Regions from separate parts of the Homo sapiens genome. Here region 2 is linked to region 1. The links come from fine-mapping of genetic effects on gene expression. A gene starts in region 1. The other region holds a variant in brackets. All regions are shown on one strand. Distances are from middle to middle.

Evidence for each region. PIP is the estimated chance that this variant, and not a neighbour inherited with it, causes the effect. A credible set is the group of variants that fine-mapping cannot tell apart.
Region 2: its variant is the best candidate, but not a certain one, in a credible set for the expression of TFAM in monocytes after interferon gamma (Fairfax 2014, PIP 0.61).

The regions. Positions count from the first base shown.
Region 1 is chr10:58,379,979-58,390,112 of GRCh38, reverse strand. It overlaps TFAM (transcription factor A, mitochondrial), which reads right to left and starts at 4,703. Exons shown (of 7, transcript NM_003201.3): 1 at 4,465-4,703; 2 at 3,775-3,893; 3 at 1,853-1,923; 4 at 1,294-1,443. The coding sequence starts at 4,565. RefSeq lists enhancers at 4,303-4,959, 5,153-5,252 and a silencer at 4,643-5,022.
Region 2 is chr10:58,428,090-58,438,676 of GRCh38, reverse strand. It overlaps LOC105378316 (a long non-coding RNA gene), which reads right to left and starts at 4,751. Exons shown (of 5, transcript XR_945984.3): 1 at 4,636-4,751. The variant A/T (reference allele first, on the strand shown) is at 4,829.

The DNA of each region.
Region 1 (10,134 bases):
AGTAACAAATTCAACTTTTATTCATAACTGTAAGTAGGGCTCCTCTGATTTAGTTTCTTCTTCCTGAATCTCTCAGTCACTGAGTATTGAAACTACTATAGACTCCAAGCACTTTACAACTTAACTATTTCCCTCTTTGTTTCTAGAGCTATCACTAGGGATTTCTCTCCTGAGGGTTTTACTTGTAACTTCCTAGTCCTCACACTTCTCACTTGATCTCTGAACTAGTTGGTACTGGGAGTCAAGAACAATTACAAAAGAAAGAGAGAATGACAAGGGAAACTTTATAAATGTCCAATTCATGCTTCTGGTCCTCTCTACTCTTAGCACAGTGGGCTGGGTGCATTAAGGAGGAAGGGAGAATGAAAGAGGGAGGATATACTTTAGTAATCACTCTTCCAAACACCATCCTTATGTAGACACTCTATTTTTCACTCTTAGTATCTTTCTGGCTCCCTTTTACTGATTAGATCAGCCACCCTAAAGTAGCGGCATCATGGTCTCGAAACTGGGCGGGTCCTCAACCCTAGTGCTAGGACAGCTTAAAACATTAGGGTCAGGGAAAGACGTATTGGCATCCCACATTCAAGGCTGTAATCTAGTCTTTCAAAGAAATAGTTTTAACTCTGATGATCATTTGTAATAGTGTAGGTACACGACTAGCAAACTGACCACCTCAAAACTAATACTGGCTCTATGAAAAAAATGTATAACTTTCAAATGATGACATTTATGTGAATTAATACATTAAGCTGGGAACTACAAATTTTGAACCATGTGAGGTTTTTAATAGTTATTTCTTTGAAGAAAAAAAAAGAATTCCATCCTAAAGGCACTTAATTGATTAGATAAATTGGCATTTTTCCGATGTGTTAATGAATTAATGCAGTCTACTCAGCAATATTCCATATCAAACTCACCATAATCTATAGAATAATTCAAATTAATACGTTATTCTAAAGAAGACTCAGAAGCAAAGATTCTTGATACTCCTGGTTTGACTGTTTCATAACTCTGTTCCTGTAGTTTCCATTACTGTTCTACGAACTGTACACCTTAAATGTGGATACATCTGCAAGTAGCAACAAGGATTTCCAAACAGACTCAATGGCAAGTGGTCCTAGTGGCTATCTCACTTTTCATAAGAGAACTATCCCACTTCTGCCTAACTGAAGAATACTTGATGACATTCTACCATATTTTATTTGCCTATTAAGAGAAAACTACCTATATTCATAGTTATATAAATCTCAATTCTTTACCATAAGAAAAAAGTATTTCAATGATACTCACTTTTTTTTTTGTCATAGCTTTCCTTTTTAAATGTTTGTCCATGATTTCTTTTTCCAAAGACATAATCTGACTTGGAGTTAGCTGTTCTTTAAATCTGCTTATCTCTTCTTTATATACCTGCCACTCCGCCCTATAAGCATCTTGATATATCTATAAATAAAAAACCCAAGTAAGTCAACAAACCATTGCTGGCAAATTCAACATAGCACATGCCAGGGAAAGGCAACTGCATGACTTCAGACAGACAGATTTTATCACCAGGTGGAAAATGTGCTCTGGGATGAGATGTATATGGATTAAAACATACATTTTCCTTATATATACTAATCAAGGTGAGAGTTTAGTAATCAGCTTCCATTTTCAAACTACTGCCACTTCTTCACCTCCACCCCATACATCCATATTCTCATTATTTATGCAGATGAGAAGACATAAAGTTTCTTTGTAGATAACAGATTATTTTTTAAAAAGTCTGATCCATCTGGTCCTTTAAAGGACATGACAATTGCTCCTAACTGCAGAATAACTGGTCAGCAATGTTGAAAACTTATGTGCTTACTTTTTTCTTTGAATCAGGAAGTTCCCTCCAACGCTGGGCAATTCTTCTAATTAGTTCTGTAGTTTTTGCATCTATGGAATGAAATAAAAAGAAAAAAGATGCCACAATTTTACCTCTCAGGATTAATTTCTAAAGATATCCAGGAAAGCACAATCCATACCACACATAACTTAATATAATGATTTAACTTTCCTTTATCCAACTAATTTAAACGTAAGTAATTTATCCAACATTATCAAAAGTCTATTATCTAACAACTAAGGAGTATACCATATACCACCAGAAACAGTCAACAGTTTGATTACTAGGATTTTTTTTTTTTTTTGAGACAGGGTCCGTCACCCAGGCCATCACCCAGGCTGCAGTGCGGTGGTACAATCTTGGCCTAATGCAACCTCCACCTCCTGTGCTCAAGTGATTCTCCTGCCTCAGCCTCCCGAGTAGCTGGGACTACAGGTAGGCGCCATCATGTCCAGCTAATGTTAGTATTTTTTGTAGAGACGGGGTTTCGCTATGCTGCCCAGGCTGGCCTCAAACTCCTGAGTTCAAGCAATCCATCTGCCTCAGTCTCCCAAAGTGCTGGGATTACAGGCGCGAGCCACCACACCAGGCTGATTACTAGTTTAAGAAGCTGGATGATCAATTGCTTCAAGTTTTTTACTTCCCTTCCATATTTCAAGCAAAACACTTTTTCAAGTCTTTGAGGAATTCCTAAATTTATAAAAGCTAACAACAAAATACATTCTCGATCCATATAACACAGCCTCGTATTTCAATAACAGAAATATCATTTGGAAACAAGCTATTCGAAATTCAATCTGTTATTCTCCACTTCCTTCTTCATCTTAACCGGAATGATGGCGTGCAATTAATTGATTTTTAAAAATACCTGTTAGTACTAACTCTTACATTTAAAAGATGTGGGTACTTAAGCATGTCTCTGAAACTAACTCCTTACCTATAATGTGAGCTTTTTTTTAAAATTATTATTGTTTTTTGAGACAGGGTCTCGCTCTGTCACCCAGGCTGGAGTGCAGTGGAGCAGTCATGGCTCACTGCAGCCTCAACTTCCTGGGATCCAGTGATCCTCTCACCACAGCCTCCCAAGTAGCTGGGACTACAGGCACTGCGCCCCCATGCCCACCTCATTTTTGTATTTTTGGTAGAGACAGGATTTCCATGTTTCCCAGGCTGTTCTCGAACTCCTGGGCTCAAGCAATCCACCCATCTCGACCTCCCGAAGTGCTGGGATTACAGGTGTGAACCACCTCACCCAGCCTGATGTGAGCATTTTTTATTCTCGCCGAGAGGCTTTCTAGAGAGTCAACAAACATCCTACCTGGAAATGTTTTTTTTTTAGGAACCCAAGACAAGAAAGGATTTATCCTTTACAACCCACCATCCCCTTGGCAAGGTCGAGGTCTGAATCAAAGAACCAGAGTGGCTCTGAACTCCTATGATGAAAAGGTTTATCCTTTCTTATCTTGAAAGCTCTTGAAATTAGCAGTAAATTGCATAGAACTTTACAGTTCTACAGAACTTACAGTTTATGGATGCTTCCACAGAAGTTGCAACTTTATTAACAATTCCCTGAGCCAGAAAAAGGAGGAGCTAGGCAAGAGAAAATAATTCATCAGTGGTCCTCTAGACCAAAGGCAACAAGGCCCCAAATTCAGCTTTTTTATCCTCTTCCTAGGGTGCTTTCTACACTATACGTTATTTTTAAAATACCATTTACTAGTTCTCATTTATATTTAAAGCATTTCCATTTGGTATAAAATAGAACTTCCTATTTTACAGACATCAAATGATTGTTCCTGCAGTCACTGAATGCTTTAGCACTGCAATTCAACATTGGTATTTAACTGCTTAATGGCATTTTTATTACATGAGAAAAGGGTATATGCCCCAAAACTCCTTACCTGGGTTCTGAGCTTTAAATATGGGTAGTTGTTCTTTAGAAAATCGAAGGTAAGAACTTACAGGTTTCTTTGGACAACTTGCCAAGACAGATGAAAACCACCTCGGTAAATACACAAAACTACATATAAACAAAAAGAAAATAACCAGTGTCAGATGTTTAACTGTCAATATTCACATGTATATGAACACAGATCCCAAATAAGAAATGTCATCAAGATACTATGTATCCAACGCCTTCAACAAGAATGCTAGAGACTTATTAAAACCCTGTCCTAAACGGAGGGGAGCGTCTGCAGGACTGAAGTCTCAAAGCCCTTACCTCCTAGGAAGGGCAGGGAGTGAAGGAAAGCGTCTATACTCCAGCTCCTGGGCCCCGCCTCCTCAATGCCTAGATGATGGCCGGAGACTCGGCGCGAATTCGCAGAGGAGGCGGAAAGGATCCAAAGCTGGACAGTGAGGAGGGATGGGAGAAGCGAGTGGAGGGTAGCAAGAAGGTACGGCGTATTAAGAGAGTAAATAAAGGCCTGGTCTCAAGGCCACCGTCCCCTTGGCAAGGTCGCGGTCTGAATCAAAGAACCAGGGTGACTCTGAACTCCTAGGAGGGGCAGAAAGTGAAGGATAGGGTCTACATTCCAACCCCGGGACGTCCTGGGCCCTGCTGCCCCTAGGGCACAGGCAAGCGGGCCTACCTGAAGGGGGAGCGCAGTCGACTTCCACAGCCGGTGCACAGCTCTGCTCCAGACCTTCCCAGGGCACTCAGCACGCCCCACATGCTTCGGAGAAACGCCATCGCTCCGGTGGATGAGGCAGTGACCCGACCCCAATCTCGGAGAGCCTCCTGGCAATACACAACTCCAGCAATCACAACTGGAACCCGCGTGCGACCCTCCGGCGTGTGTTATCATGCCCGCCACTAGCGAGGCACTATGGGAAATCTGCTAACATCCGGTCGGTAGATGGGGGCGGGGCGGGGCGGAATTGGCGCAGGCGCGGGAGAGCGTACCCCGGTGGGCGGCCTTGCGGGGGAGGAATAAGAGCCGCGGAGATGAAGGGAAACCGCAATCCTCTAGCCTGCGGAGGGCTCTGGCTTCGAGGCGGCGCTGTTGAGCCACCTCTGTCCCCGGCCGCCCGGAGCAGTGGGTTCCTCTGCCGGGCCAGGAGGGTGATGGAGGGACCGCGGCGGCGGCCTCACCCCAACCCGGCGTTGGCCGGTGTCCGCCCGTGACGGTCACAAGGGCTGTACGTAACAGACAGTCCTGCATCCAGGACCCCGAGGTCCGATCGGCGGCTGCTGCGCGCCCAGCGGAGCGTCTCAGTTCAAGCCAGGGCTGGAGCTCGGAGTTCAGAAATAGTAACGGGAGAGGCGGGGATTCGCAAACCTAAAAATGCAGATTCCAAGGCCTTACCGCAGAGCTTAATTCCGTGTGTCTATGTGGGGCCCATTAATCTTCATTTTAGCGAGTTCCCCAGAATTTAACAAGTTCTAATGTCGGTGGTCTTGAGACCACATTTAAAGCAATATAGCTTTAGACTGTTTATTCTACCATCTACTGCAGTCTTTCAGTCTGGCCTCCAGCTTGCTTAATTTGAGCAGAGGAAACTGGCTAGTTGTCCACAGTCGCTAGTCTCAATTCTTCTAGTTCCAGTATTAACATTAACGTCTTGACTTGGGAATATTGCATTCCCTCGTTAAGATTCAGTTTCCCCCTCTGCAAACGAGGATGTTAGACTAAATCAGTTTTCCCAGCCAAAGCCCTGAGAACGTGTGACAAGTATGCCTTGAGACATTGATGTGTCAAAAATTGCTGTATAATTTTTTTATTTGTGTTATAGAAATACCATTTTCTGTATAGGCAATGGCATGAAAAAGATTAGGAAGACCTAAAGATACCTAAGGGTCCTTCCAGCCCTTAAATACCAGTTGTTTCAGAGCTAACCACCTTCTGAGACAGCCTTTCTTCTGTTGGATAGCCGTAATTGTTAGAAAATTCTTACCAGTGTCATATTGAGCTGACAGTCTATTTACCTTTCTGTAACTATGAAAACATTGGCTCTCTGGAAGTAGGACTAAGCCTACTTCTTCTTTTAAGCGGTAATAACCACTTCCCTTTTATAGACTCCCAGGGTTGAAAGGGACCTTCCAAGTCATCTGTTCAAACCTCCCATTCTGGCATGGAATAAACAGGTTTTTTTCCTGAGTATATACTATGTACAACGCCCTAAACATAGATAAAAGACACAGTGTTGTGCCCCAGCCCACCCCCCGCCCCCAGCCCCAAAGGTGAGGCAAAGTAGCAAATAATTACAACATGGGGCTCAGACAGAAGTTACATTTAAGTTGATTTCTAAAATAATTTGTTTCCCTTTTTGTTCTAGAATGTTTTTGTTCTTTCAAATGTTTGACATAAACTTCTTTTGGATATTAAACTTTTTGTTGTTTTCGACTTTCATTTGTATAAATCTTGCTGTAAAGACCTTAAAAATCAAATCCATAACATTTTTCATCAGATACCAATCTTCCTTAAAACTCATTTACATTGCAGTGATAATTTTACTTCTAAAAGCAGAATTTACAAAGAAACATAACTTTATCCACTAAAACTGTCTTTTAACAAAAAGACATGGTATATAATTACTTTATAAAACATGAAGACTTACTGCAGCCTTTCCCAGGGTCCCTTTGTTGTAAAGTTCTCTAGTCCCATGACTTCAGCTATTAGTTATAGCCTCATGACTGCCATATTGAACCCAGTCCTCTCCTTTGAGTTCCGTATCCACATAACCACTGTCTTCTGTACATTTTCACCATCATGTCCCACAAGTACTTCAATTTCAACATTCCCTGAACAAAATCCACTATCTTTCACCCATCTTGAAGTCCTTCTCTTGGTAAGATGCACATGTTTTCCTCTTTAATCATCTGAGCCAATAACTTGATAAATCATTTTAGAATCTCCCCATTGACACTCCACCTGCCATTAACCAACTGATGATGAGTATTGCTGATTCTGCCTCATTCATCCCTCTAGTATGTATTTCCTTCTCTCTAGTCCCATTGCTGTTGCTTTTGTTCAGGCCAGTAATATGCTGGTAAATAGCTCTCCAAAAAAGAAAGCCCCAATTTGTGGTGTTTGCTGAGTTCTATGGTGTAAATACTCCCACCATTGGCAGATTTCATGCTACTGACAAATTTTTCTTTTCCTGTTAACATGCAAACATACATATTACATAACCAGCATTGCTCCTTTCTTCCTGTTGAACTTTTAATATTTCTTAAATTAGTAATATTTGAGCAGACACATTGTGGTAGTTGATGAAAAATTAAAACAACACACCCTGAAGTTGGATTGCACTTTAATATTTTCAGAAATTTTTAAATAACTTTATTTGACTGTATGATTCAAATATCAAAGGAAAAGGTAGAGAAGGTATTGTCATGATCATTATTCCCAATTTCCAGATGAGAAAAATGAAGTTCAGAAAGCCCAACTCATAAGCTTCCAACAGTAAGTTGTGTAGGTAAAAATTGCAATTCATTGTCCTGTGCTTTTCGTTTGTATCAGATCACTCAGACTCAGTGAACATGCCACATCATTCCAGCCCAAAATATCTTTAGTGGATCATCTATAGTGTGTGAGCTCACATCACTTACTTGTGACATCATGTACCACTCTGGTTTCTGATCTTTTTCTCTATGTATACATATTTTTTTCCACAATAGATGGTAAGTTATATTAGGAAAAGACTAAATCTTATGCCTTCTTTTATCCCCTATTGTACCTAGCACAGTACACTGAGCATGATAGATGGATGAAGGGACAAACGGATGGATAGGTGAACTGACAGATATATAGATAGATAGATAATAGATGACAGACAGACATATAGATACACAGAGAGAGATGAATAGTGTGAAAAGATTAGCATCTGCACAAATTATTTATATATAAATTTAGCCCCATAGAGAACAACTACCTGTTAGAAGTGTCATTTGCCAATAGAAGGACACATTTGCCAGTGTGTGGAGATGGAAACCATGTAAAATTCTGAAATATATATACACATGAAAGTAATGATTATGGTTCATTGATACTTGCACATTGGTAAAGCAGAAGGTAGTGCCAATAAACAGCAGGAGCAGCCAGAAACCTGGATAATTCCCTGCTGAATAATGGAGTTAGATGCACAGATATCACTCAAATGAAGAAAAAATGTTGCTAAGAGAAAGCAGTCTTGGCTTTTGTAATTATAATAGATAAATAATTTAGCTACAACAGGAGCAATTACCTAATAGGTTTTAGCAGGATAAATAGATGTGATTCTGAACTTGTAAGTAAAATATCTCTGGAAATAAGATCATACTATGGACACCACATTTAAAGACAATTTCCTCATAAGCAATTACAAAGCACTGTGATAAGCACTTGAAAGGGGCACAAAAAGCATAAGATATTGATCCTGCCCCAAAGAGCTGACACTGTGATTGGGGGAACAAAGCATAAAGACACAAAAGGAATAAAAGTATAACAGTGCATTGCAGCAATGAGAAAAAATTTTACACCTTGAATATCTCCTAGCTTATTTTTTCTGTGAGTCAAGATTTTAATAAATTATGTATGGAAAACTACTTGTATAATTTTTTCTTTCAAACCATTTTTATTGACATAGAGTCTGTTTTCATGCCACTGGAGTTTGCCTTTAAAATCAATATACAAAAAGAAGGAAGGGAAAGAGAAATAGAGAAATTAGAAGAAAGACCTGTTGCATGTTAATAGTTCCCAGCTACCCGAAATTATTATTATCTGTGAAATATTTCTCAATTAGAACAAAGTCTGCATGCAGCCTTAATTATTAAGGGCATATCAGAATTATTTTAAGCCATTGCTGTAGCAGCATTACAAAAAATAAATGTAGCTTGTCTATTTTAAAGCTGATTCTATGAGTCAGCAGGAGGTAGGACAAGCAAAAAGAACAGCTATAATTTTATGCAAATGTATAATACCCCAATTCATATTACTGGATGTTACTGAAAGCTGACTTCATATTACTGAAAGCTAACTTAAAGATCGGAAGAAATCCAGAATGATTGTATTGAAGGAATAATGCTGTTAATAGGACAATATAATGTGTCTGCCCTCATACCACGGTAAAGTATCTGATCAATACAAATGGTAATAATTATAATTTATTGCTAAACTACATGCCAAGTATTTTACATACATTATCACTAATCCTTTCATAAATCCTCTAAGGTGCTATGATTTCTACTGTACAGCTATGAAAACTGTATAAATAATAGGAAGGATATCTTCCTTGTTAGCATGTTAATAACAAAAATTGCCACCTCTGAATCCACAGTTTGCAGCTTTGAAGTTATATATGACTCTACGTAGATACAGGATAGGTAAATCAGTCATGAAGCGGTAGTTTTCTTAAACACCTGCTCACATTCTATTATTTCCAGTCCCCATAAATGCTTTCTTATTTATCTGAGTGGCTTACTAAAATAATATCTTAAGCCAGGGCAATGGCACATGCCTGTAGTCCCAGTTACTTGGGAGGCTGAAGCAGGAGGATTGCTTGAGCCCAGAAGTTTGAATCTAGCTTGGGCAACATAGCAAGACCCTTTCTCTTAAAAAGTATTCAGTCACCCAAAAACATAGGTTTGAATTTAAAGAACTACACATACACATATGCATGAGTGTGCGTGCAAAAGTAAGAGTGCAGAATAGTACACAAAATTTGGTTTAATAGTGATTGTATCTGAGTATTGCAGGAGTGCATGGGTGGTACTCATTTTTTAATTTATATATTATCTTAGTCTTCTTGTAAAACACAATAGTAATATTCATCTTTTAGTGATAATTTTTTAAAAACTCAGTTCCTAGGAGAGGCCAATACTGTGCCAGACACTGTGCTAAGTTCTAAAAGTACATATGGTTGGGTGCAGTGGCTCACGGGGGAGGATCACTTGAGCCCAGGAATTCGAGACCAGCCTAAGCAACACAGTGAGACCCCCGTCTCCATAAAATAAATAAATAATACATACAAATACGATTAAGGCCCGATCATCCATTTAAATTTACCTGGGAAAGCAGGGGATGGCTTCATAGAGTAGGTGACATTTGAACTGTTTTTTCGAGTGGGGAAAGGTTGAGATGCCTTCCAGAAAAGGAAAACAGTATGTGCAAGTCACAGATATTTATGAGGGCATGGTATATGTGAAAAGGAGTGGTATGAAACAAACCTCTTTAAATTTGAGTGGGGTTGGGTTGTAAAGGACTATGTATAATTTAAGTTTGTTAGGAAAATATAGCCAAACAACTTTTTAGGCAGGTTACAGGCACAATTAAGTTGTT
Region 2 (10,587 bases), 48 kb before region 1:
AATAGATATACAATTTCAGAAAGTAGATGAATAAGTCTCCAGTTCTGTTGAAAAATAATTATGGCTTAATGTTTATTTTTTTCATGTTGAACCTATTGCCAGCTAATTATTTCAAAATGAATCTCTTTCCCAATCCTCTGGAAAAGAATGCTTGGTATGTTTTGATTGGTCAGTGTGCCATCATGCATTTTATGAGCTCTTTGCTTAATCTGATGTTAATGTATTCTTTCCAAGCAAGGGAGAAAGCCCATGCCCAGAGGTGGAAGCAGTGGCACCTGAATTGCTCAGCTGATATTCACTGATAAGAAAGCGACCCTGTCCTCTTTTTTGGTCATATTCTTCCATAATGCCTTCAATAGCACCATGCATTTCTCCATCATCACTGTCTTTGCACACATTCATTGTCTGAATGAGTAATAACCTTTCCAAGGTCTATCTTCCCTGTTATATTGTAAGCTCCAAGAGGATAAGCAACATGTTGGTCATAGTCCATACCCTATTTCTAGTGCCTAATACTGTGCTTAGTATATAGCAAGCACAATTTTAATATATTATGAGTTAATGAATGAATGAACAGGCCCTTGTCTCCTTCCCTAAGGGCTAGGCAGTTTAATCCTAAGACAACCAGGTGCTTTCAAAAATAACTCTTTCTGAACCAATACAGGTGACATGGACATTTTCTTAATATATTATTCTCTAAGGAAACATTTCTTCACTTGTTCCACTACGCTATGTAAACACTCTTATCTGGCAATCTCTTCAGCATGTATACATTTAACGTGTATTTAGTATTTTTCTTTTCTAACTTTTTATTGTGCTTGTATCTTATCAAATCATATTATTTATACGTTTTTACTGTGTATGCTCCTAGACTTCCTCTCTGCCTGCTCTGATCTTTGGATGCTGCAGGCGAAGCACCTTACCTGTCCCAGCTTTAGATTCCAGCATTAAATGCTGGCATTAAGCCCATACCAGCCCTTGGATAGGCAGAGATCAGATACTGTTTGACATTAACAGAGAAATGAGATCCTAATGAGGACACTCTCAGGCACCAATATGAATTAGCATGGAAATGGCCAAATTCAACCTTGAAGTTCTGCTCTCTTTTCGATTTCTTCTTCATATCAAATAACCATCAAAAAGTAAGTAAACTTTCAAGGGAATGATTTGTTGGGTTATGGTCTCAGATTTCAAGAAATAGGGCTTCTAGGGAAAAGCATCGGCACGTGTGATGTCATGAGAGGAGGGGAAGAGGAGGGTCTAAGGCAGAATGCCGCCTCTGCTCAAAGATGTTATTCATTTTATACCACATTTCACCTCTTCCCTCATGCCTTTCTCCAGTCTTCAAAAATGTGAATTTTGGTCACTGTTGGCCTTGCCTCTTATTGCAAAGAAAGTTTTGTCATTTAGTGACTGGGAAATAGCCTGTTGTATGAATTGTATTTAAAATTATTGTGCAACTGGGACCATAAGCATGAATGTATAAGGGTTCACAATCTTCCCTCTCTGTGACTGCTAGCTTGTCTCCAGGACTCTGTGAAGCTAATCAGGCCAATGGGTAGAAAGATCTGATAACTGGAAGATAAGATACAGACTGGGATTTTTTTTTTCAATCTTATAAAGAGACAAATTTATTTATTTTTGTGTTTTGTTGGGAGAGAGGGAGGAAAAAGACCAGAACCCTGAGTGCAATGCAGGGATGAGAAAGAGATTTTGTGAGTTGAGCAAGTCTTTGAAAAAAAACTTCAGAGTGATGGGAAATAGAAAGAAAGATGCAGAAATAATTGTTAGGATGTCTGCTAGATATTCTTCTGACATTCTTCAAGAGTCCCTGGTAAATATTTGAATTATTTTCCAATTAGTCTTGGTGTTCAAAGTTGTGTTTATTTGAATGTCATATAAACTGGACCACATGGGTCAACATATTTAAATTGACTTCTTTTATCCATATATATAGAGAAATCAATATTGCAGGTAGGTGAAACCCAACCAATCAGAATTTTCTTAACTAATTTAACTTGTATTTTCCTTGAGAACTCTTAAGAGAAACAAATAAATGAAAGACAATTATTTCATACAAGAAATTCTGTTAGAATACACACATATGCAACTGTTACAGAATAGAAACACACTTCAATCTTTAATACTTTTTACAGACACAACTCTAATCAGTAACATGAACATTCGACTGAAATTTAAAATGGTGGCCCTGAAATACTTTTTAAGTCTCAATTTTTGTACGTACTAAAGAAAGATAATCAAAAGATATTTTTGGCATGAGACCCAATCCCTTCTGGCCTGAGGCATTGTTATGAAAGGTAGTTTGTTGCATACCTGTCTGGCTACCTAAAGCCACTTCCCGTTTGCCCCAAGAACACTGTGCTGGCAGTGAGCCACATTTTTTTCCAAACAGGAAATGGGTTAAAGACACAGCATGCAATTCTGAAGGGACCCCAGATCAGCAACTTACGGACACATGTTTGGAAAAGGAAACTTCACTTTGATGCATCAATCATTTTTCACTCTGTTCCTTTTCTTTAAAAGACGGGACTTTATGAGCAGTACCTTAAGGAGAAGCAAACTAAGATTTCTCTGTGCTCTGAGGAAACTCTAAAACATTGAAGGGCAAAACAACTAGATTTTTATCTTTCCCATTGGAAACTTTTTCTCAAAATGACCCATTCCTATCAGGCCTTTGGGGCTCCTCCTCAGGTATGTTTCTATTCTCTATTAAGACAAAGGGGCAGGCTCTCACACCCACACAACACTGATAGACATCACTTGTGGCCAGATTTTTTGTTTGGGTTTTTTTTTTTTTTTTTGCCTTCTTTAACTTCTGTTGAGAAGAAAGCCCTGAATTCCAGCTTCCATCAATTGGCTGTCATCCCAGGCCACACAATTGGCAAAGCCCTGCATCCTAAGACCTCCCAAAAACAGAGAAGCCTGGGGATCTGAAACAGGTACCACTGATTATTTTAGCTGTAGAGGCCTTTTGTTGTCATTTGCCACTGTTACTTACACAATTCTTTAGTCGTGACTTTTAAGTCTCTCACTTGGTCTTTTTTCCACTGAAGTTTTATCCTGATTCATTCTTCCTCTTCCCAGACCTTGGCTTGTGACATCTCTGCTAGGATTGATATCAACACCATGGTTGTGTTTATGTCTCCCCCTGCATGCCAGGCTCACTGATGTGGTGAGTGGAGCTCTGGGAAGCCGAGCTGAGGAGGCTGAGTCATCAGTCATCATCTCTTGACTCCCTGGGTCTGACCAAAATGACAGAGGCTCCTCACACTAAAGTGTACTGGGAGACCACAGCAAAAAAGAGGCAAAGGACTTCTCCCATTTGACTCTAACCACTTTATAAAAGGTCACATTTTTGTCATAGCAGTAGGGAGATGTTAGTGTGGAAATCTCAATGCAGCTTCCATTCCATTTCGTTTTTCAGGCCACAGCTTAAATGACCCTTTCTAAATGGTAAACCACATTGAAAAGCTATTAAAGCTTAATATAGGCATACTCTGTGACCCAGCATTTTTAATTCTGAATATATATATATGCATATATACATTTATATGATATATTCATATAGCATATACATAATATATATAATAGAAATCCATTCATATGTTTACCAAAAGGCATGTACAGGAATGTTCATAGCAGTACTATTTATTTATTTATTTATTTATTTATAGAGACAGAGTCTTCCTCTGTTGCCCAGGCTGGAGCACAGTGGCACAATCACAGCTTGCTGCAGTCTCAAACTCTTGGGCTCAAGCAATCCTCCTGCTTCAGTCTCCCAAGTAGTTAGGACTACAGCTGTGCACCACCACAACTGGCTAATTTTTTTTTTTTTTTTGAGATGGAGTCTCACTCTGTTGCCAGGCTGGAGTGCAGTGGCGCAATCTTGGCTCAGTGCAACCTCCTCCTCCAGGGTTCAAGAGATTCTCCTGCCTCAGCCTCCCTAGTAGCTGGGACTATAGGCGCCCACCACCACACCCAGCTAATTTTTGTATTTTCAGTAGAGACAGGGTTTCACCATGTTGGCCAGGATGGTCTTGATCTCTTGACCTTGTGATCCGCCCACCTCAGCCTCCTAAAGTGCTGGGATCACAGGTGTGAGCCACCATGCCTGGCCCACCTGGCCAATTTTTTAATTTTTTGTAGATACAGGGTCTCCCTATATTGCCCAGGCTGGTCTCAAACTCCTGGCCTCAAGTGAACCACCCACCTCCGCCTCCCAAAGTGCTGAGATTACAAGTGTGAGCCACCATGCCTAGCCATAGCAAGACTATTGATATTAACAAAAAACCAGAAACTGCCTGAGTCTCCATCAACAATATAATGATATATAAATTGTGGCATATTTACATGATAACATACTGTATAGCAATGAGAATGAAAGAAATATAACTACACACAACAATATGGATGAATACCACAAACATTATATTGAGCAAAAAAAGCAAATAGAAAAAAAATACTGTATGCTTTAATTTACGTAAAGTTAAAAACTAGGCAAAATTACGCTGTTAGAAGTCAGGATAGAGATTATTCTCGGGGGTTAGGAGTGGAGTATGGGGAGGTCTTCTGCCCTTCTAGTAACTTTCCATTTCTTATGTAGACACTACTTACCCTGATGTGTTCAGGTTGTGAGCAAGTTATGCACTTTTCACTTTTTATGTTATGTTTTAATTAAAAACTTTTTAAAAAGTCATCTTCTCGTATGTGCTACAATATGGATGAACTTTTGAAGACATTATCCTGAGTAAAATAAGCCAGAAACAAAAGGATAAATATTGCATGAATTCACGTATGAGGTTCTTAG[A/T]GTAGTCAAATTCATAGATACAGAAAGTAGAACAGTGGTTGCCAGGGGATGGGGGGATGGAATAGTGGATGATTTGGGTTTAATGAGTTGAGAGTTTCAGTTTATGATCGTGAATAAGTTCTGGAGATGGATGTGGACGATGGTTGCATAACAGTGAGATTGTACTTAATGCCACTGAACTGTACCTTTCAAATGGTTAAACTGGTCAATTTTATGTTACGTATATTTCACCATAACTTAAAAAGTCATATCATTGCAGACTTTCCTGATCACCTCACATAAATGGTACTTAACATAATAGGTTCTCAGTAAATGTCTGATGAACCAACACATTTTCCAGGAGATCTGAGGCAAGTTATGAAACACTTCTGTAAATCTTTCCTTTAGTTATTTATTTATTCATTCATTATAAAAATCTTTATTAAGCATTTATGCATATATTTTGGGGGAATTAAAAAGTGAAATGAGACAGCATGTTTTTCCAGAGATGAAACTAGCTCTTGCAAGTAGAAATGCATTCCCAGCCTTTGGCTAGCTCTCGGCTAGAGGCTGGGTCAGAACAGCACATAGATTTCAACTCAATGTGACAGATCAAATTGTTTAGTATTAGCTGCTTCCAGAATTTGTTGAAAAGGATTCTGAGGCCCATCAGGGCTCAGCAGTAAAATAAATATCATTAAAAAAGAGTTAGCTTTGTGAACTTGGACAAGTTAAAAAAATTAATAATATTTACATGAGACCTTGAAAGAGGCGTGATGGCATGGGTATTGTGGGTTTTGCTATCCATCCTTAGGCTTGCTCGTGTCTCACCAAGAGTGTTGCAGATGTGAATCAGAAATCAGACTCAACCTGAACTAACAGATGATTTCCAGGTCTTTTTCACCTGGGAGTCTTTGAGAATAAAAATGAGTCCCAGTGCTTAATGGTCCTCATGGAGCTAAACAATAAGCTGCTCTAGTTTCTTTTCTACAAAATGAGAGGAATTATTACTGTTATTCTATTCCTTGGTTCACAGACATATTAGGGAGGTGGAATCCCTAAGATAAACTCTAAACAAACACACATTTGGATGTCCTTTTGAACCTTGATGAGAGCAAAAGGAATGAATATAAGATAATGAAATTATTATTACAACTGACATTTTTGAGAATCTATTGTGTACTATGTAATACTTTAAGTATCTAAGGTAGCTTGTAGCATCATCTTTTTTTTTTTTTTTTTTTGAGATGGAGTCTCACTGTGTTGCCCAGGCTGGAGTGCAGTGGCACGATCTCGGGCTCACTGCAACTTCTGCTTCCCGGGTTCAAGAGATTCTCCTGCCTCAGCCTCCCAAGTAGCTGGAATTACAGGCGCCCACGACCACGCCAGGCTAATTTTTGCATTTTTAGTAGAGACGGGGTTTCACCATATTGGCCAGGCTGCTCTGGAATTCCTGACCTTGTGATCACCCTGCCTCAGCCTCCCAAAGTGCTGGGATTACAGACGTGAGCCACCATGCCCGGCCATAGCATCGTATTTTAACAACAAACTGATATGGTAGGAATTCTTATTCACAGTTTACAGAAAAGAACACTAACTCATAGAAAAACTTACAAACTTGCCCTAAGTCACATTGTTAATAAATACTTGATCTGGGATTGAACCCACATCTTTCCACACATCACAGAGACACTGTAGGAACTTGGTACTGCTTCTCAGACATTGCAATCCCACAAAAGGGCAAGGTCAGACTTGCTGTTAAAGGCAAATGTCCAAAGCACCTGTTCCCTTGCCAGATGTTGATGTTCTTGTCCTCTCTGCCAGCTCCTATCCCACAGGCAATCAGGGCCCTCACACTGTCCACCACCCTTGTCCACACACTCGCCCTGACTGAAGCCCTGAGGGTTCCCAGATCCCGCACCTGCCTTCCCACCCAGGGCTTTGTGCCTAGAGAGCTGCTCTTAAGCCCTTCTCTGAGGTCTTCTGAATACCCCTACTCCATCATCAGTCAAAACAGCTGTGTTTTTTTTTTTTTTTTGCTATACCTGTTAGGCTTCTGTTAAGTTGAACAATAGGAAACTGCTGATATTCAACCATATTGCCTGCAAAAATGTCAATTTCATATAATTCAATATAATACATAAACTTCCTTGTAAACAGAAAGTCTGTGACTAAATAATCTGAAAGTTATTGCCCTAGGCCTTTAATGAGCTTGATGTTTTGCTTGGCCCAGTAAAATTAAACTCTGTTCCTTCTCAGACATAACTTGTTAGAGAATAAATGGGTACAAGCCCTCTCCAGGGCAATTTGTCAAAACATATTTCTTAAAGCTTTCCAGTTTTGACATCCAATGAAGCAGCAAATTCACTTCCAGGAATCTATTATAAGGAAATTATTAAAGAAACAAAAAATATTTAGCCACTAGGATGTAAACATCTTTGTATTAATAGTGGGAAAATGTAAAACATACCCACCTCCCACACACATAAAACTAAATGTTCAATATCAAGAGTTTGGTTAATTAACTTACAGTATTTTTATATAATGCAATACTATACATTCATGAAAAATTATATATAACCAATAAAAAAGAATTCAGTAAAACAAAAAAGTAAATTTAATATTGAATGAAATAATCAATAGCTTTCCTATCCACAAGTGTAAGCCAGTTAGAATATATCATGAAAGAGAAGATCCCATTTAAAAAACTACAGGCCAGATGCAGTAGCTCACACCTGTAATATCAGCATTTTGGGAAGGCGAGGCAGAAGGATCACTTAAGGCCTGGAGTTCAAGACCAGCCTGCACAACAAAGAAAGACCCTATCTCTATGAAAAAAAAAAAATTAGCCAAGTGTGGCACACACCTGTAGTCCCAGCTACCCAGAAGTCTGAGGCAGAAGGATTGTTTGAGCCCAAGAGATCAAGGCTGCAGTGAGGCATGTTCATGCCACTGCACTCCAGCCTAGGCAACTGAGCAAGACCCTGTTTCAAAACAAAAAACCAACAACCAAAAAACCATAAAATACCTAGGAAGAAAATGGAACATGAAACATACAAAACCTATATGAGGAAAAATTCAAAACATTTCAAAAAGACACAAAGTTAAACTTGAATAATTGGGACACATAATAAATTCTTGGATAAGGAAATTCATTATCATAAAGATGTTAGTTCTCCCGAAGTTAACCTATTTATTTATTTATTGTGATTCCAACAAAAATGCTAATAAGATTTTTCATAAAGAAGACAAAATTATTCTAAAGTCGCATGGATATACCAAAATCAACTGAAGATGGATTAAAGACTTAAACAAAAGACCCAAATCTATAAAAATACTAGAAGAAAACCTAGGGAAAATTCTTCTAGATATAGGTCTAGGCAAGAATTTATGACTAAGACCTCAAAAGCACAGGCAATAAAAACAGGCAAATGGGACATAACTAAATGAAAACACTTCTGAACAGCAAAAGAAAGAATCAACAGAGTGAACAAATAATCTGCAGAATGAGAGAAATATTTGGAAACTATCCTACATGCAACTAATATCCAGAATATACAAGGAACTCAAAAAACTCAATGGGAAAAAAAAAAACAAATACTGTCATTAAAAAGTGGGCAAAGGATATAAATAGACATTTTTTCAAAAGAAGACATACAAATGGCCAACAGGTATATGAAAAAATGCTTGACGTCACTAATCATCAGAGAAATGCAAATTAAAACCACAATAAGATATCATCTTACCCCAATCAGAAGCTATTATTCAAAAGATAAAAGATTTGGGGGAGGGTGTGGAGAAAAGGGAATGCTTATACACTGTTGACGGGAATGTAAATTAGTAAAATCTCTATAGAAAACAGTAGGGAGATTTCTCAAAGAACTAAAAATGGAACTACCATTTGATCCAGCCATCTCATTACTGAGTATCTGGCCAAAGAAAGAGAAATCAATATATCAAAAAGATACCTGCACTTGTATGTTTATCAACTACTCACAATAGCAAAGATATGGAAGCAACCTAGTTTCCATCAGCAGGTGACTGGATAAAGAAAATGTGGTATATATAAAGAATAAAGTACTATTCAGCCATAAAAACATGAAATCATGTCTTTTGCAGGAACTTGGATGGAACAGGAGGGCATTGTCATAAATGAAACAAGCCAGACACAGAAATATAAATATTGCATGTTCTCACTTATAAATGAGTGCCAGAAAAGGTGTATATGTAAGTAGAGAGGGAAATGATAGACAATGGAGACTCAGAAGAGTGAAGGAGTGGAAGGGGATGGATAATTGGAAATCACTTAATGGGTACAAAGTACGTTATTTGGGTGATGGATATCCTAAAAGCACTGACATCACCACTATGCATGTAATAAAATTGTACTTATATCCCATAAATTTATACAATTAAAAAAATAAAGTCACATAGAAAAAAGGACAGGCAAGAACAGCCAAGAAGCAAGAAAGACAAGAGCAATGGTGGGGAGGGGAGCATAGCCATATCAGATATGAAAACATATTATAAAGCTTCTATAATTAAATTAGCATAATAATAGTTCACGACTGGACAGACAGACCAATAGAACAGAATTTTCTGAACAGAATAGAACCACCATCAGAGTGAACAGGCAATCTACAGAATGGGAGAAAATTTTTACAATCTACCCATCTGACAAAGGGCTTATATCCAGAATCTACAAAGAACTTAAATTTACAAGAAAAAATCAAACAACCCCATCAAAAAGTGGGCAAAGGACATGAACATATACTTCTCAAAAGAAGACATTTATGCAGCCAACAGACACATGAAAAAATGCTCATCAACACTGGCCATCAGAGAAACGCAAATCAAAACCACAATGAGATAACCATCTCACACCAGTTAGAATGACAATCATTAAAAAGTCAGGAAACAACAGGTGCTGGAGAGGATGCAGAGCAATAGGAACACTTTTACACTGTTGCTGGGACTGTAAACTAGTTCAACCATTGTGGAAGACAGTGTGGCAATTCCTCAAGGATCTAGAACTAGAAATACCATTTGACCCAGCAATCCCATTACTGGGCATATACCCAAAGGATTATAAATCATGCTGCTATAAAGACACATGCACACATATGTTTATTGCAGCATTATTCACAATAGCAAAGACCTGGAACCAACCCAAATGTCCATCAATGATAGACTGGATTAAGAAAATGTGGCACATATATACCATGGAATACTATGGAGCCATGAAAAAGGATGAGTTCATGTCCTTTGTAGGGACATGGATGAAGCTGGAAACCATCATTCTGAACAAACTGTTGCAAGGACAGAAAACCAAACACCACATGTTCTCACTTATAGGTGGGAATTGAACAATGAGAACACTTGGACACAGGGTGGGGAACATCACACACCGGGGCCTGTTGTGGGGAGGGGGAAGGGATAGCATTAGGAGATATACCTAATGTAAATGACAGATAATTGGTGCAGCACATCAACATGGCACATGTATACATACGTAACAAACCTGCATGTTGTGCACATGTACCCTAGAATTTAAAGGATAATAATAAAAAAAAGAAAAAAAATGATCAATGTCACTAGTCAGGGAAATGCAAATTAAACCACAATGAGCTATCACTTTACAACTGTTAGAATAGCTGCTATCAGAAAGACGAAAGATAATAAGTACTGGCAAGAATGTAGAGAAAAGGGAACTCTTGTACATTGTTGGTGAGAATATAAATTAATATAGCCATTACAGAAAACACTATGGATGGTCTTTA